2 separate regions of the Homo sapiens genome follow, and region 1 is linked to region 2. Evidence: fine-mapped expression QTL. Tissue or cell type: whole blood. Region 2 holds a variant in brackets; the other region holds the start of a gene. All regions are shown on one strand. Distances are from middle to middle.

The links. PIP is the estimated chance that this variant, and not a neighbour inherited with it, causes the effect.
Region 1: AQP9 starts here. The variant in region 2 is fine-mapped to the expression of AQP9 in whole blood (INTERVAL, PIP 0.95).

The regions. Positions count from the first base shown.
Region 1 is chr15:58,134,758-58,142,940 of GRCh38, forward strand. It overlaps AQP9 (aquaporin 9), which reads left to right and starts at 3,624. Exons shown (of 6, transcript NM_020980.5): 1 at 3,624-3,919. The coding sequence starts at 3,809.
Region 2 is chr15:58,171,643-58,179,825 of GRCh38, forward strand. AQP9 (aquaporin 9) reads left to right here. Exons shown (of 6, transcript NM_020980.5): 3 at 1,426-1,563; 4 at 3,276-3,394; 5 at 7,486-7,703. Among named protein-coding and RNA genes, the nearest start is that of AQP9, 37 kb to the left of the region's middle. The variant G/A (reference allele first, on the strand shown) is at 3,737.

The sequences.
Region 1 (8,183 bases), 37 kb before region 2:
ATATCACAATTATCTGCAATAGCGTTAATCAATACATTTATGATTTTCTTCAGCAACATTTAGCAGCCAGGGAAGAGAAAGTCTGAGAAAAAAAAAATGGATGGTTAGGCATACCCAGAGTTGGGCTTTGGCAACATGGGTGTAGAAGAAAATCACTGGGTCAATGGAACCTGAGATGCTGGGAAGCGCTTCATTAACGTGGGTAATCATGAGGTAATAATTAGGTGGAAAGGAAGGCTTTGAGGGACTGGAATTTAGAATTAGGAGGTGTAGGGGAAGTGAGGTCAGGGTGTGAGAGGCGGTTATACTTATAAACACCAGGCTTCTATCTTGGGATTGCGTGAGTGTAGGCAAAGATGGTTACCCAAGGCAAAAGTAGATAAACACAGAATAGAATGTTGGGGAGAAGAGAAGATAGGAAGGGGCAGAGCCAAGGGAACTATTAATAAAAGAACAGCATATGCCAGCCCTGGAGAATCAGTATGGCAGTGCATCCAGGAAAGCTCATCAGCTTTAGAACCATTGACAGCAGTCACCATACTCATTCTTTCCTCTGCATGTTGGCAAATGCAGAGTTAGCTCTCAGATGTTCCTATGGTGACAGCAGAAATTTTGGTTCAGTATCTTGCTTACAACTCTATTCTACTCTATGGTGTATTCATTCAGACATCTTAGTCACTTAGACTATTAATTCCTTAATAATAGAGATCTGGTTTTGTTTTTTCATTTTTAAATTCCCACTGCTTAATGCTGTGCCTGACACATGGTACATATTCAATGAAAACTTTTTCTGAGTGAATGAAATTTAAAAGCTTCCTCATGCTTCCAGTTAGAACTTTGGAGTCAGGGTATTTTGACAAAGGCTCCCTCCCAGATGGAATAAAGGAGGAATACTATTCATTGCTTACCTTCTTAAGATGCTTTTGAACATTTTGTTAGGTGGCTGGAACATTTTGTTCAGTGAATATTTTGTATGAGTAAGCTATGTTTGATGATGAGCTGTTCGTGGTGATGGAGGTGAGAAGTGTGACTGTCAATTGAAGGTAGTAAAACAGAAATAATAAAGATTCCATCCTCCTCTACCTAAGCATGAAATGTTCCATATCAAACTCTCAGTTCTCTTCAAACTCTCTCCCTAGGGAGCCTCTTTACTCCAGGCTCCAGTTATCACCACTATGAGCACACAGACATTCCTTCCTCATCTGGACCCATATCACTTCCTAACTTACATCGCTCAGAAGCCTCTGAGGCTCAGTTTTGCACAAGCAGAATTAATGATCTTCCACTGCACTTCTGGTCCTCTTCCAGGATTTCCTCTCCCAGGGCTCAGCAGCACCTTCCCCAGCAAGTTAGGAACTCAGGAACCAACTTTTCTCAGTCTCTTTTCCTCATCTCCCACATCTAATCCATGAAATTCTTCCAATTTTAAGATATAAAGAACTCTTGGATCCCTCCATTTCTCCACTGTCAAACTACCACCCAATTCTGGAATTCTGTAATACCCCCAAATGTATCTGCCTATGACCATTCCAAGCCCCCTCCAATCCCCTCTCCACCTCACAGCTCGGAGGATCTTTTCAAAACTCTAATCTGATCATGTCGTATTTCTGCTTAAACCACCTTAATGACTTACACTTTTAGCCCTAACTACCACTTACAAGGCCTAGTAAGGTCTGACCCTTGCCCACACCTCAGGGCTCATTTTGCATGCTGTACTCCTTCACTCTCTCTGGGGCCAACCACAGTAAATTTCTCTCATTCTTTGAGAGGCATCATGCTGTCCCCTACCCCTTACCCCCAAAGCCACCAAGGACTTTGTACATGCACTTTCTTCCCCACTTCATGTAGTTAATCCCATGCTTCTTTCTGATCTCAGTCCACACATGACTTCCTTGGAGAAGCCATCAGAGATCTCTCCAACAAAGTCAAATCCTTTTGCTATATTTGCTTATGGAAATATGGCCCCCATCTTTGCAGCATACATCTCAGTTGTGATTTTGTATTTATGTGTGTGGGATTATTTCACTTACATCTGTCTGCTTCACTAGACTCTAGGCTCTGTGAAGGACAAGAACCCTATGTGCTCTTGTTAAGTGCAGTGCTTGGCACATAATGAGTGTGCAGTAAATAGTTGTTAGATGAGTGAATGGGAAGACCAGAGAACGCTCTTGCATGTTATTAGCTGTAGTCACAGTAAGAAAGTCCTGTTTCTCTGGTCCATCCACTGGGACTTGGTAATGGTGTGGTCATAGGTAACTCTTCTAGACAATGGTATTTATGATAACTTCATCAGGAATTAAAGCCAAAGTGCTGAGGTTTTGTCCTGGTTCTGCAGTAGTGTGGCCTCAGGCAGGTTATAACTTTTTAAAGTCTAAATTCTAAATGTCACCTACAGATGAGAAGTCTCCTTCTGCCTTTGGCCTCTCACCAGCTGCTTTCTCCATGTCCTCTCCTCCCTCCCTTTTTGCAAAGCTAGGGGAGGGCCTGATGCAGAGCTGGCTTCCCTGTGGGAGGACTGGAAGGAACCACACAGCATGGATACTAATTCCATGAGTCCACATTGGTAATCAGAAACTAGGCCTGCCTTGCTATTTAGAAACTAATGCTATATTCTATTTCTTCAGATAAGCCAGTTTTGAAAAACAAGGCTTGAATATTTGGCAGGACAAGGAGCTACTCCCAAACACAGTTTCTTGCCAGCAAGGATGTCAATTTATCAAATTGAAAGGGTATAACCTAGGAGCCTCGGTTAGGTGTACTGGCTCCCTTTCTCGTTTGATTAGAATGACATACACGCTAATTGATCTCTTTCCGGCTCAGTCATCTCCATGCAGTAAAGAATTTCAAGCTGCTATTGTTTATTTCCTATGTATTATGTCTAAATATTTCATGGTGAATGAAGAAGAGTGACTATTTTCAAACTGGAATGCTTCTTCAGAAGAAACCCAAACTGGAATGTTTCTTCAGAAGAAACTTCAGAAGTCACCAAAAAGGTGACTCCTCCATCTTTCTGATTCTTGGATCCTAAAGTATCTTCAGCAAGTGAAGCCCAGTTTCATAACCGAAGAGGTGACTCCATCTGTCCTACAGACTTGCAGTGTGAAGCTTGCAATGGTTTCTCTGTATGTTAATTTCTCCATCTCTAGGATGGCCTATGTGGTTCTTACTAACCTCAGAGTGGTATCATGAAGCCACTGAAATGATACCAGAAGAAAACAAGAGTGATTAATCTTCTAGGATGATAAATCTATATTTTCTTCAAATTCTTCATTTTGCATAAAAACCTTTTTCAGAAAAGAATGTTAACATTGGATATATCTACACCTGATTTGACAGTTCCAAACTACACCCCAACCACCCACTTCTGAATGAGAAGAAAAAAAAATCAGAAGCCTGCAATTGTGTAACATGAAAATCTTTTCTGGACCAGGGCCCGTCACTGTGATTTGGCAACACAACTGGCACATCTCTTTTCTCATCTCTTGAAAAAAACCAACAGAGAAAAAAGTACCTTGAGAATAAAGGTAATGATTAATCTGTCAGGCACAAAAGGGATTGTTTTGGGGATTTCGGGTTCTAAGTCGCAGATTCAAACAAATAGCAGCGAACAGGGAATGACAGTTCCACCAGAAGACGATTAAGCCACAGCCTCTAATTGGAACGGCATTTGTACAGTCAGAGACTCTTACCAGACATCTCCAGGAATCTGTGAGCCATTGTCAAAACGTCCATTTTCATCTGGCTGTGAAAGTGAGGACCACAACAGGTAGGTATTGGTAGAAACAGGAGTCCTCAGAGAAGCCCCAAGATGCAGCCTGAGGGAGCAGAAAAGGGAAAAAGCTTCAAGCAGAGACTGGTCTTGAAGAGCAGCTTAGCGAAAGAAACCCTCTCTGAGTTCTTGGGCACGTTCATCTTGATTGTAAGTATTTCCTGATTTCCTACATTCAGACCCAATAATGCCTCCCTAGCTGCCAGGCTGGTAGTGGAGAGTTTTGTTTGGTTTGTTTTATTTAAGTTAATTGGGATCAGATTCATCTTTTCCAGGAAGAAACAAGTTACTAGAGGCTGTTTGACTATTTAGGGGTTGTGATATTAAGTTTTCAATTACCTATTGCATTTACCCACAAAAGTTGATGGGAATGGAAGAGAAGGAGTGAGTGAAGTGCCTTCTTTATTTCAGGTATTTACTTATACTCTAAAATGGCTTTGTGATTTAAAAGTCAGTCGTTAGTGTTTTCATTGATCAATTGATTTGTACCCTGCTTGCTTCCTCCAAGCATTGGGGTGACTCAGCCACCTGGAATAAGCATCAATAGTCAATAAATATAGTTGGCAAAAATATACATATGGATGGCAAGAAACATCTCAGTATGACAAGTACTTGACAAGTATTGTGCTGTCAGATCACTTGATTTTTAAGAAATTAAAAATTGCACTAGGTAGAAATAGTGTACCAGGCAATAGTCCAGCTTTAGTTTTGTGTCATTTTTGGTCTCTATTTAAAGCAAAGTAATCTCTAAATATCTTTGGAGATTTACAAGACAATTACAAGAACCTTCTAGATATAAACGAGGGACGACTTCTAAGAACCTCTTGAGGATTGCCCAGAGATTTACTCAGCTATTAACAAGAGACTGGAAAGTTTACTTAAGTGGTCTGGGCTTTCATTTTGCTGCACGTTCTAGCATTCTCTGTATCCTGAAGTTTTACCTGGAACCAGGCCATTTGTGAATAGAAATGTATTATCATGTGGCAACTATTGATTTCAACTGGTTTTTTTTATCCTGCTTAAGGATTTCCTACTCCAGGTATAAATAATTTCATTTTCCTTAAAGTTATAGAGAATAGCCCATAAACTCTGTGCATTAAAAGTTCTTTGCTTGGGGCAAATACATAATAATTTAGAAGAATAAGCTTGGAATGCATCAGCTAAGCCAAGAATGAGAAACAAATGTGAACTCAAAAAATTGAACTAGTGGAATGTGAAGAGAGAGTCATAAGTTTTCTGGTCTCTGAGAAACACATTAGACCAGATTCGTTACAGTATTTTCAGGGAGTTACGGACAATTTCTTGCACTCCTCATCTTCCCTTGGCATTCATTCCTGGCTGCTCTGACCACACTCACTGTCATAATGTAGCAAGACATTATGTAGTAAGACATTATGTAAGTAGTTATTTCTAACTAAAATAAAAGAAATAAAAGAGAGAAGATGAAAGTCAGTGATTCTTATGATTCCCGGTCACTGCTTACTGGAAAATCTTTCTTAGTGAGACTGAGACCCCTCTGTCATGTTACTTGACAATCTGGCCCCAAAGAAGCAGTTGTCAATACAGAGTGATTACAGCCTCACAGTGACGAGTGAGTCAGAAAAGTGAAGCAAATTCAGTTACAATTCTTAGTGCTCTGCAGAAAACAGAGGAGGAAATGAACTACACATCTTTTTTTTTTTTTTTTTGCAACCAAAAAGTTTAAAACCCTCTGTATTTCTTAAGAAGAACCTGTTTCATAATCCCGTGCTTTCTGTGTTGAAAGTGAAATTTGCTTTCAGCAGTTCACTGTTCAACTGGCCTTGTGTCTTCCCCACTATGCAAGGTAGGGGCTAAATAAAGAACATCTTGATATTGTCTGTTGAAAAATTAAAACTTGTATGTTCTGGATAAAGCCAGTCATTTCCTGAAATATTTAATTTCCATTTATACTATACATTTATTTTCTAAAGTGAACCCTAATAAAATCTGCAACCTTGATTATCATCTTCAGTTTTGTTGGAGCTTGTGGGGATGTATAAACAAAAAGTTCCTGCACAAACACAATTTTTTTAAACCAAGAAATCTACATGGTTTTGCTGAAAGTTTATCCAAAGTAATTTTCTGCTTTATTAGAGAATGTGCATTTTGCCTTGTATTTTCTAGTAAAAAGCTTTGTACATTGATAAGGCAAAGGGAAGGGGAACATCGAAAAGATGGCAGAGGATATAAAGGACTCAGTCTTTCAAATATGTGAGATTGTTTTTTTTCCGCCAACCTTGGGAGTCTGGTTCTATTTTTTTTCCCTCCTTTCAAAAACTGCTCTTATGGGGAGCATCTCAAACTAATCTAACACCATGGTATAAATTACGGGTCCCCAACACATGGGCCACGGACTGGTACAGGTGGTCCCTGGTGCTAAAAGGTTGGGAACAGTTGGTATAAAGGACTGATAAGGCCTACTGGTAGCATTAAGAGAAAAGAAGGTCCATGAAAAATTCTTTATAAACTACAACTAAAACCAACAACAATTAAGTCATAAGCCAAAAAGCTAGCTCTAATTTGGCCTTTTAGTCATTGGGATACGTAGGCCTTTCACCTTTACTAGTGTGGGGGGAAAGTTTGCAATGCAAAAGGCTGATCTCTTCCTTGGGCTGAACTTCAGAGAATCTCTAGTCATGTCTAGTCATTTCTCACAGGGACTATGCTCACTCCTACTACTCTATATATTCTCCTCTCTCTTCAAACTTTTCAGGATTCTTTGATACAGAGCTCATCTTATTGAAGATGCTGAAGTGAACAACCCAGCAAGCAGCTGTATTTCCTCCTGAGGTGGAAGGACAGCTTTCCAGGGCTGGACTTTTGAGTAGATAACATACTGTGTAGTCGGACAGATGCTGAATTCTTTTCTCACCCTGTCAAGCTTCCGCATTAGAGGTCTAACTTTTGGCATCTCTTAGAATGGAAAAAAATGCAAGTACTTCTGCTAAAAGTAGTACCCTTGATCTTTACCTTCAGTGCCCTGAAGGAAATAGAAAGAAACTATCCTGGAACACAGACTATGGAGGAAATAGGGGAGTGGGCAGTACAGGAAGGAGGAAGGAAGGACAGGGATGGTTGATTGTATGTGAGAAATTTCAGACACTGCAGTGTTCCCTTCTTCCTGCTCCTACCTTCCACCAGGACTGGGTGAGAAATCATCCCTCCTTGCTGGGGTCACAGAGTTTGTCTCTCCATTTTGAGAGGATTCTCAATCAGACATGCTGGTTATAGACACTCTAGGGCTTTAAAATTATTATTACAAAGTTTGTTCAGATCTTGAAGTAGGTCTATTCTATCTTAGGGAGCTTTTGAGACAAAAGAATCTATGGTCAGGATTTAGAGTGAAATCAGAAAGTTTATAAGCCAAATTAAAGGAAACGTCCACTTTGCAGGGCAGAATCCAGGACAATTTTGGTCTAGTACATTATTTGGAATGCCCAGGTACTGGCAGGAGAGCTCTGAGATAAGGGTGGGCAGATATCACTGGCCCTTTTTATTGGTGGAGAAGCTGAGCTCAGGCTGATGTAATCATGCATCCCGGGAATCAGCCCAGAGCCCAGTTGCCCTGCCCTGGGCACACACTCGCCCTTGGACTTCCACTGTGCTCTTCCCTTGAGCAGCACAGAGTGTTCGCTTGTCCAAATTCTCGTTCCTGTTTGAATGTTTCCTGAAGAGAGAGAAAGGAGAGCGATCAACTGCATTTTGCCAGATGGAGAGACAAGTGTAACACAATTAAGAGACTTATCAGCCCTTGAATGAAAGAGCTGGGCTTGGTATCTTGACTCCAGTCATTCCCTAATACCATCATTTGATGAGAATTAACTCCTTTCATGTGAAAGCCCAAGCGAACTTGACAAAGTTTACAGTTTAAAATACATTAGCAGTGTCAAAAGATGATTTTACAGAACAGACGTGATCGTGGTGGGGATATTTTACAGGAGATCTGCTAGCAGAGTCTTGGGATCTCTTCACCACCTACAAACACATTCAAACCTCAGGTAACACCAGGGTTCTGAGGTGGCTCAGTGATGTCTTCAGCTCTGATAAACACATTGACCAAGCATTGCACTGTGTTTTTCCTCTAGTATTTCTGTTTTCTAGCTTTTCCTCAAGACCACTCTTTTGGTTCAGAGCAAAGGACCTATAGGAAAGTGGGCCTCAAGAGACCCCATAACTTCTCTGTCTTGCTTTCTGGCTCAACAGCCACCTATTCTTTCTCTGTTTCCTCCATGCTTGGTTCTTCTAGCTTGCTATTTTACAAAACCATCCATCTCTCCAAGTCTAGGGTGCCCAGGACTGAGGGTCACATGGAGCTAGAGCTGTCAGTTGGCCAACAGATGCTAGATCAGAAGCCCCTACTGTCAGCAGTGCCCTGGATTCTGCCTGTGGGTGG
Region 2 (8,183 bases):
ATTTTCTTGCTCATTGTAGCCACTGAGTGGCAGGGGCAGGTGAAGAAAGGACTCTTGTGGCTTAGCCAGCAGCCAGAATCCCCCACCCACTGCAAGTCCATTTTGCCCTGGAGACTTGGAAAAAGCATAGCTTTCTCCACAGGGAGTGGTAGAGGCTTCTGGAAACAAGTGCACCTATTGGTTCTGTGCAGGATCATCATCATCATCATCATCATCATCATCATCACCACCATCATCCCTCCTTTGTTTACGACCAAGGCCACAGCCTGAAAGTCCACATCTCAATGTGGTGTCTCTGATTCCCCCTCCACAAAAAATGTCATCTGTATTCCTCAAATGAACATCTGTTTTCACTAGGAAGTGAGCCTATATGCTCAGACAATTTTTTTAAATTCTTTATTTATTTTTCTGCCCACAAAAGCAGAGAAGCCTTTATAAACACGGTGAAGATGGGCTGGAAGTGGTATAGCAGAAAACACAGGCTCTAGAATTCAGATAAACCTGAATCTGAATCCTGGTTCTTCCATTTACTGACCATGTAGCCTTAAGAAACTTACTTTCCGTCCATGCCTCAGTTTTCTCATCCGTTAACTGGAGTAGTACTCATCTCATTGGGTTCTTAAGAGGATCAAATCCACCTACTAACCCTACAATGGTGTCTGGTAAGTATTTGATAAATGCTGCTGTTGTTGTTACTAGCAAAGCCAGCTGGGGATGTTAGAGACCAACCACAGAGCAAACTCTCTATTTGATTTTATGGCTGGATGCAAGTCAAGGAAGCCGATTTCTCTAGCTGGAGCTTGGGCTGGGCTCAGGAAAGGGTTGCTACATTTCTGTATAGGAGAGAAATGCATTGTTTATGCAGAGGAACTGAGAACAAGCCACTCACACTGTGACCACCTCAAAATCAACTATGCCCCCACCCTCAGCAACCCACAGTCATTTTCCTTTAAAGATACATCTCTTTTGAGCTTGTTTTTATATCCTCTGGGCATGGCCGGAGGAACTGCTAGATATAGATTTAAATCTTATACATATATTGGATAAGCATATTGACTTTTAAAAGATATCGAAGTTAATAGCTACATCAGTCTGTTTGGGGTGACTGCTTTATAGATAGAGGGATTCAAGCCTATTAAAAAAACAGCCACTTGAGCACATCAAGTTTCTTTTTATACCTGACTCTCTTTTCATCAAGATAAACATTCTAAACTGTTATCCAAGGATGCCATGAAAATGATCATTCCTCCTTCTCTCCCTGCTCAGATACACACTCTCTCTTTCACGTGCATACACACCCCTCTTTCTCCTCATAGGCAGTAGTTCTCTGCCTAGAAGACTGAATTCCACCTGAGGTCTCTAGATGGTTTTCTGTATATTCTTCTTCCTAACCTGCCCTCTCACTTCTCCAATCTTCCCTTGCAGGTGGTCACATCAACCCAGCTGTGTCTTTAGCAATGTGTCTCTTTGGACGGATGAAATGGTTCAAATTGCCATTTTATGTGGGAGCCCAGTTCTTGGGAGCCTTTGTGGGGGCTGCAACCGTCTTTGGCATTTACTATGGTGAGTAAAGTCCCTGAGTCCTAAGGTTAGGAAGAGCTGGGCATAATTTGAAAGTCAGAATTACTTGGTAGGCACAGGCGAGAAAAAGCAAGGACGGGAAGCATTCTACAAGTGACAGCAAGTTCTAAATTTGAGAAAATGAGGCCATATTACCATTCCAGCAAATTCGTGAATCCTGTTAATGAAAATGGTCATATCTTAAATGGGGAGCAGAACTTAAAGGAAGCCTGTCTTTGTGCCAAGCCAGCACTGCAACATACACATCCATACAACAAGCAGTAGGCCAGTGGCTTCCCCACTGCTGTCTCTGATTTGGCTGGGAAAAGAGGTGTTTTCTGGTGACAAAGGTGTGACCAGTAAGTATTGAGAGAAGGACTCTGGGAAGATGTCTTTGAAGGAAGAGACACAGCAGAGATGTGGGCTGGGTGGGAGCCTCATTGCCCTTCTATCAAACAGCCAGGGCTTCCACTCTGCAACAGTCCTTGGGAAAAACACAGTATTGGTCATAGAAGACCAGACTTTAGCTCTAGCTGTTCAGTAAATACCTGTGCAACTTAAATAAGTCATCTGATCTGACTAGCCTCAGTTTCCTCCTCTGGAAAATGAGGGAATTGAATCAGATGACTCTCGAGGCCTTTCAAACTAAAACACCTTGGTGTTCCCATGAAATCAACTGTTAAAGCAGCTCCTTCCTTCTAACCCAAGGTAAGCCTTAATACATTATGACTTACCCAAACTGAAGACCTTAGGAAGTAGAATTTATGAACCAGGCCTTATAGAAATGGGTCATGGAGGGCTGGGTGTGTGGTGGCTCATGCCTGTAATCCCAACACTTTGGGAGGCATAAGTGGGAGGATCGTTTGAGCCCAGTAGTTCAAGACCAGCCTGGGCAACATAGGGATACCTCGTCTCTTCAGAAAAAAAAATTAAAAATAAGCCAGGTGTGGTAACTCACATCTGTAGTCCCAGCTACTCAGGAGGCTGATAAGAGGATTGCTTCAGCCCAGATCAAGGCTGCAGTGAGCCAGGATCATGCCATTGCACTCCAGCCTGGGCAGCAGAGCAAGACCCTGTCTCCAAAGAAGAAAAAAAAGAAAAAAAAAAAGGAAAAGAAATAGGTTATGGAAAGGGACTTTTCCCCATAGAGTGTCTCTCTGAGAATTAGAGTCTAAAAGGGCTAAAATGGAATTCAAGAACACACAGGAAATTCAGAGCCCGCTGCTGTGGCAAGAATGGCCTGGGGTCAGTGCTAGCTGTGGCAGTGGCTGCAATACCCCTGGCTCTAAGGGCATCTTCAGTATACTGCAACACCCTCAAATTCTGGAGTGGTATTAGGGGTTACTGAGAGCCCTCTGGGAATTATAAATTATTCCTAGAGCAAGACCAAGCCCCACTTTGGCTTACAGTTGACCTCGAAAACTCCAAGAATTCCCCCAAAAGAGAACTCATTCCCAGGACCCTATCGAAGAATAATTTGTCCAAGTTTGCAGTGGGCCATTCAGAGAGGCCAAAGGCCTTCTTCCTTTGACCCTCCATCCTGGGATTCACCTGGGCATCTCTAAAACTATCATTCCTCGGAAGTAGAGAGAGACAAATGACATGGCTATGCCAAGCTCAATCTGAGTGACTGGTTGTTTAGCACAAGGCTTGGCACAGGCCTCCTTCAACTCTTCCCAGGGAACACTAATGTGCCAGAGCTTTCTCTTTCATAGATGGACTTATGTCCTTTGCTGGTGGAAAACTGCTGATCGTGGGAGAAAATGCAACAGCACACATTTTTGCAACATACCCAGCTCCGTATCTATCTCTGGCGAACGCATTTGCAGATCAAGTAAGTGTAGATTCAACAAAGACTTAACTTTGGTGAAAAGATATGCTCTCATAAGGGGAATGCATTGGAGAATTAGAGACCAATCAGAAAGGAGAGATTATATTTCCAAAGGCAGAGGTTGCTGGGCATAACCCAAGCTTTCTTGATAATCGTTTTACCTTTACAAGGAGCTGATACCACCAGAAAAGTTTTCTCCTTCCTCTTTAATACGTACACTTGTTTAACATTAGTTGAGATCCAGAAAAGAGTGAATGACTAAACATTTCAATCCCTGTAGACACAAATGGACTTCACTTCACTATTGACTCTTTTGAACAAGTGGTCTAAGTGTGGAGGCCACAA[G/A]AGAAGATATTTCTATTTCAAATCAAAGACTGTGAAGGGTGGTAGTTGAGCCTAGGGGATCATCAATCCTCTCTGTCTCACCATGTGCATAGGTTTATTTATTTAAACTCTCAAGGTGGCTAGAAGTATCTCTGCTTATTGACCTTTAAACAAGCTTCTAGCACCCAAGCATACTGTGGTGTAACCAATAGCACACCTATTTGGTCAGCTTATGGCAGGACTAACATTGTCAACTCAAAAGACTCTTCTTCCCTTACTGTGTCCCAAGAAGGCTGCTGGTTATCTTGGTCAGGGCAGTGGAAGGAAGGCTATATTTTTCAGTATCTCTAAGTTCTTCCTCTATGATCAGGACTTATACAGTGGAGCAGATCAGAATGGGCATGTGTATAAAATGGATCTTCCAGTTCATCAGCTATGCCCACCTCCATTCAATGTATGGATGAAAAACTATGCCCTCATGTCCTCAGCTTTTTTACTTTCCACTTTCATCAATAAATCAAACAGGCAACAAGTGTTCATTAAAAACTCACTATGTGCTTGGCCCTTTGTCTGGAGCTTGAAAGACTGACGAGTAAATGTGAGTTGTAAAGATCCAAGATGCAGAGTCTGAATGCTTGAATTAAAATAGCTGTTCTGCCTCCAACTTCCTGCGTGGCTTCAGCAAAGTACTGAACTTTTTGGGTCGCAAGTTATTCACTTGTAAAATGGGGATAATATGAGCCTTCATGAAGTTACTTATGAGGATAAAAAGAATAATATGAGAAAAACGCATTGTAAGCAGTATCTGCCCAGAAATTTTGAATCTAGTTGAAGAGCATTGAACAAGGAAACAATGCAAAATAAGATATAATTAGACAGAGCTGGGCACGGTGGTTCACATCTTACTCCCTGCATTTTGGGAGGCCAAGGTGGACAGGTCACTTGAGCCCAGGAGTTCACTACCAGCCTGGGCAACATGGCAAAACCCTGCCTCTACCAAAAATACAAAAATTAGCCATGCGTGGTGGTGCTTGCATGTAGTCCCAGCAACTTGGGAGGCTGAGGTGGGAGGATAGCTTGCACCCAGGAGTTGGAGGCTGCAGTGAGCTATGATTACACCACCACACCTCAGCCTGGGCAAAAAAGAAGAAAATTAGATAGGAAACTGGAGTATAGCGACCATATTATAATAGAAATTTGAAGCAGAGAGCATAGAAGAGCGAGGACAATTTTGGTTATTTTGGTGTTTTTCTCTAAGCTTTTTTTTTTTTTTTTTAAGACTGAGCCTGTTGCCCCAGGCTGGAGTGCAGTGGCGTGATCTCAGCTCACTGCAACCTCCACCTCCCAGGTTCAAGCAATTCTCCTGCCTCAGCCTTTGGAGTAGCTAGGATTCCCAGTGTGAGCCACCACTCCTGGCTAATTTTTGTATTTTTAGTAGAGACGGGGTTTCACCATGTTGGCCAGACTGGTCTCGAACTCCTGACCTCATAATCCGCCTGCCTAAGCCTCCCAAAGCTGTATCTTGATCAATGCTGACCTGCATACCATATCCTGAGCTTCCTTCATTGTGTCCTTGTCTCAGAGTGAGTTGGCAATTTCTCTAAGGTCTGTGGTTTCTAAGCCCATTATTGTGTATAAAGTCAAGTAGAAAAAGCGAATATTAGAAAACCCTGAGGCTGTAACCGTCAGCAAACCCTGAATGCTGTCCGTATTCTTAGGCTTTGGAGAGAGTTCCAAAAATTGCCAATTATCAGTCAGTCAACACCCAACAGAGCTCTTGGCCATCATGACCATATTTTGGGGTCACCTTATTTCAAGATTACTAAATTGTTTAGCTGTAAATACTCTTCAAGCATATTCCTTGGTTTAGTTAATAATCAATCATTTATTTACCCAATAACTATTTACTGGGCACCTACTTAGCCAAGTACAGCTCTATACTCTTCCTTCTTCAAGGAGTTCAGAGTCTGAGGCTCAATCTAACAAGTAAGTAGATACTCTTTTGCAGAGTGACAGGGACACTGATACAAGTAAAGTCAGAATGTCATGGAAGCCCAGAGGAGGGAGCTTTTACTCTGCAAGAGAGAGTTGGAGAAGGCATTCCAGAGAAGAGTGCTCTTGGGGGAACATGTGTCTTTTAATATTAATTAAAAATTATTTTAACATTATTATTTTGGAAAGCAGATGAAATGATAATGAACTTAAACTTTAAAATCAGTTGCCTGGTTCCCATCCTGATTCTTCTGCTTACAAGTTTGACATTGGACAAGTGTCTTAACCTTGTTTTACTCGAGTTTTCTTATCTATAAACTGAGAATAATAGCAGGATTTACCTCACAGCATTACTGTGAAGTTTTAATGAGATAAAGCATATGAAGTACCTGGCACATAATAAATGTTCAATAAATAATAGCTATCATTTAACTGTTAAAGTAAAACAGTAGTTTGGAAAACTAATAACATAGAAACCAGCTATAATTGGCCAATTCAAATACCTATTATCATTTTTGTTTATTGTCTTAAAATTTTTCTTTTACGTATGTTTTTAAGTAGAGTCAACCCTACATATCCATGAATTCTGCATCCATGGATTCAACCAACCATGGATCAAAAATATTTTTAAATTGCATTTGTATTGGACATGTACAGACTTTTTTCTTGTCATTATTCCCTAAACAATACCGTATTCACATTATATCAGATATTATAATAATCTAGAGATGATTTAAAGTATACAGGAGGATGTGCATAGGTTATATACAAATAATACACAATTTTATATTGGGGACTTGAACATCCATGGATTTTTGGTACTTGCAGGAAGTCCTGGAACCAATCCCCCACAGACACCAAGGGACAGCTGTATAAAACACAAAACAAAACACAAACACAAACAAAAAAATACAAATTTTTTTCACTTAATGTTATAAGTATTTTTAAATATTACTACATAGCTTTTATGTTTATAGTTTTTAATGGCTATACAGTAGACTAAAAAAAGAGTAAAAGCTTCCAGTTTTTCAGTACTATAAATTTTGCTAAAGTGGACATTTTAAAATGATTTTTCCACGTTTTAGATTATTTCCATTGTGTAATTCTCAAACATCCAGCAGCATCAAATTGTATAAATAAATTTATGTTTTTGAATGCATATTGCTAAATTATTGCTGAATTTCCTTTTAAAAGCATAGTACTTGTTTAGATCTATTAGAAAAGCCTGAAATAACGGGTATCTTTTTCCTAACATTTGATATTGTTTGGATTTATTTTATTACTAATGAGTTTTTACCACTGCTTTCCTAATTCTGTTTTCCTTTTTTGAATTTTCTGTTCACTTCCTTTGCACACTCATCTATTGATATCTCACATTGCTTTTCTCACCAATTTGAACAAGCCTTTCATTCATTTTTCCAGCCTGCAGCTTGCCGTTCTACTTAGCTGAGTAGTAGCTTAGCAGGATAGTGTGGTATTAAGATAACAGTCTCTGGAGCCAAACTCTCTGGATCCAAACCTGACTGCCACCTACTAAGTGGGCAGGGTAACCAATCTGTAAATGAGAATTATATTGGCTTCTCCTCTAGAATTGCTGTAGAAAGAAGAGAGACTGGCACAATTATTCACCCAGTACATGCCAGTTATTACTAGGCATATTGTAATATAAGTAAAATAGTAATATTGTAATATTGTAAAATAGTAAGAAGGGATGATTTTGAGACATGCAGGTGAGCAGAATGCAGGCTAAAGCCCTGGCTCAACTTCTCCCTCTCCAGGTGGTGGCCACCATGATACTCCTCATAATCGTCTTTGCCATCTTTGACTCCAGAAACTTGGGAGCCCCCAGAGGCCTAGAGCCCATTGCCATCGGCCTCCTGATTATTGTCATTGCTTCCTCCCTGGGACTGAACAGTGGCTGTGCCATGAACCCAGCTCGAGACCTGAGTCCCAGACTTTTCACTGCCTTGGCAGGCTGGGGGTTTGAAGTCTTCAGGTAAGTAACAGTGGTGGGGAAGAGAGAGACAGAGTCATGCTGCGCCTCACCAGTGGGGCGGGGCTTTGACATGGAGATCCAGGGAAGTTCAGATGACAGCGCCAACGTTAACTGCACACTCTGGTCATAAGCATGAGACATTTCACTGGTATTTTGTGGTATGATGTGTGTGTGTGTGTGTGTGTGTGTGTGAAAGAGAGAGAGAGACAGAGAAAGAGAGGCGGCTCTAGGTAAATTCAATAGAGATAAAACTGTCCCACATAATAATAATCCCTCAATTGCTATATGATTTTATGTGAACATTTTAGCTGTATAACTTGTCTGCAGATTCATTTTGTGACAAAGTTGGGCTACAATTTGCATCCTATGATGCCACTACAGGGCTCTTCCTCGTGAACCACGCAACCTATGCTGCACTTATTCCACAGATATTTGTTGGGCATTATCTGTGCTTTAGTCACTGTGCTAAGCAAGGAAATT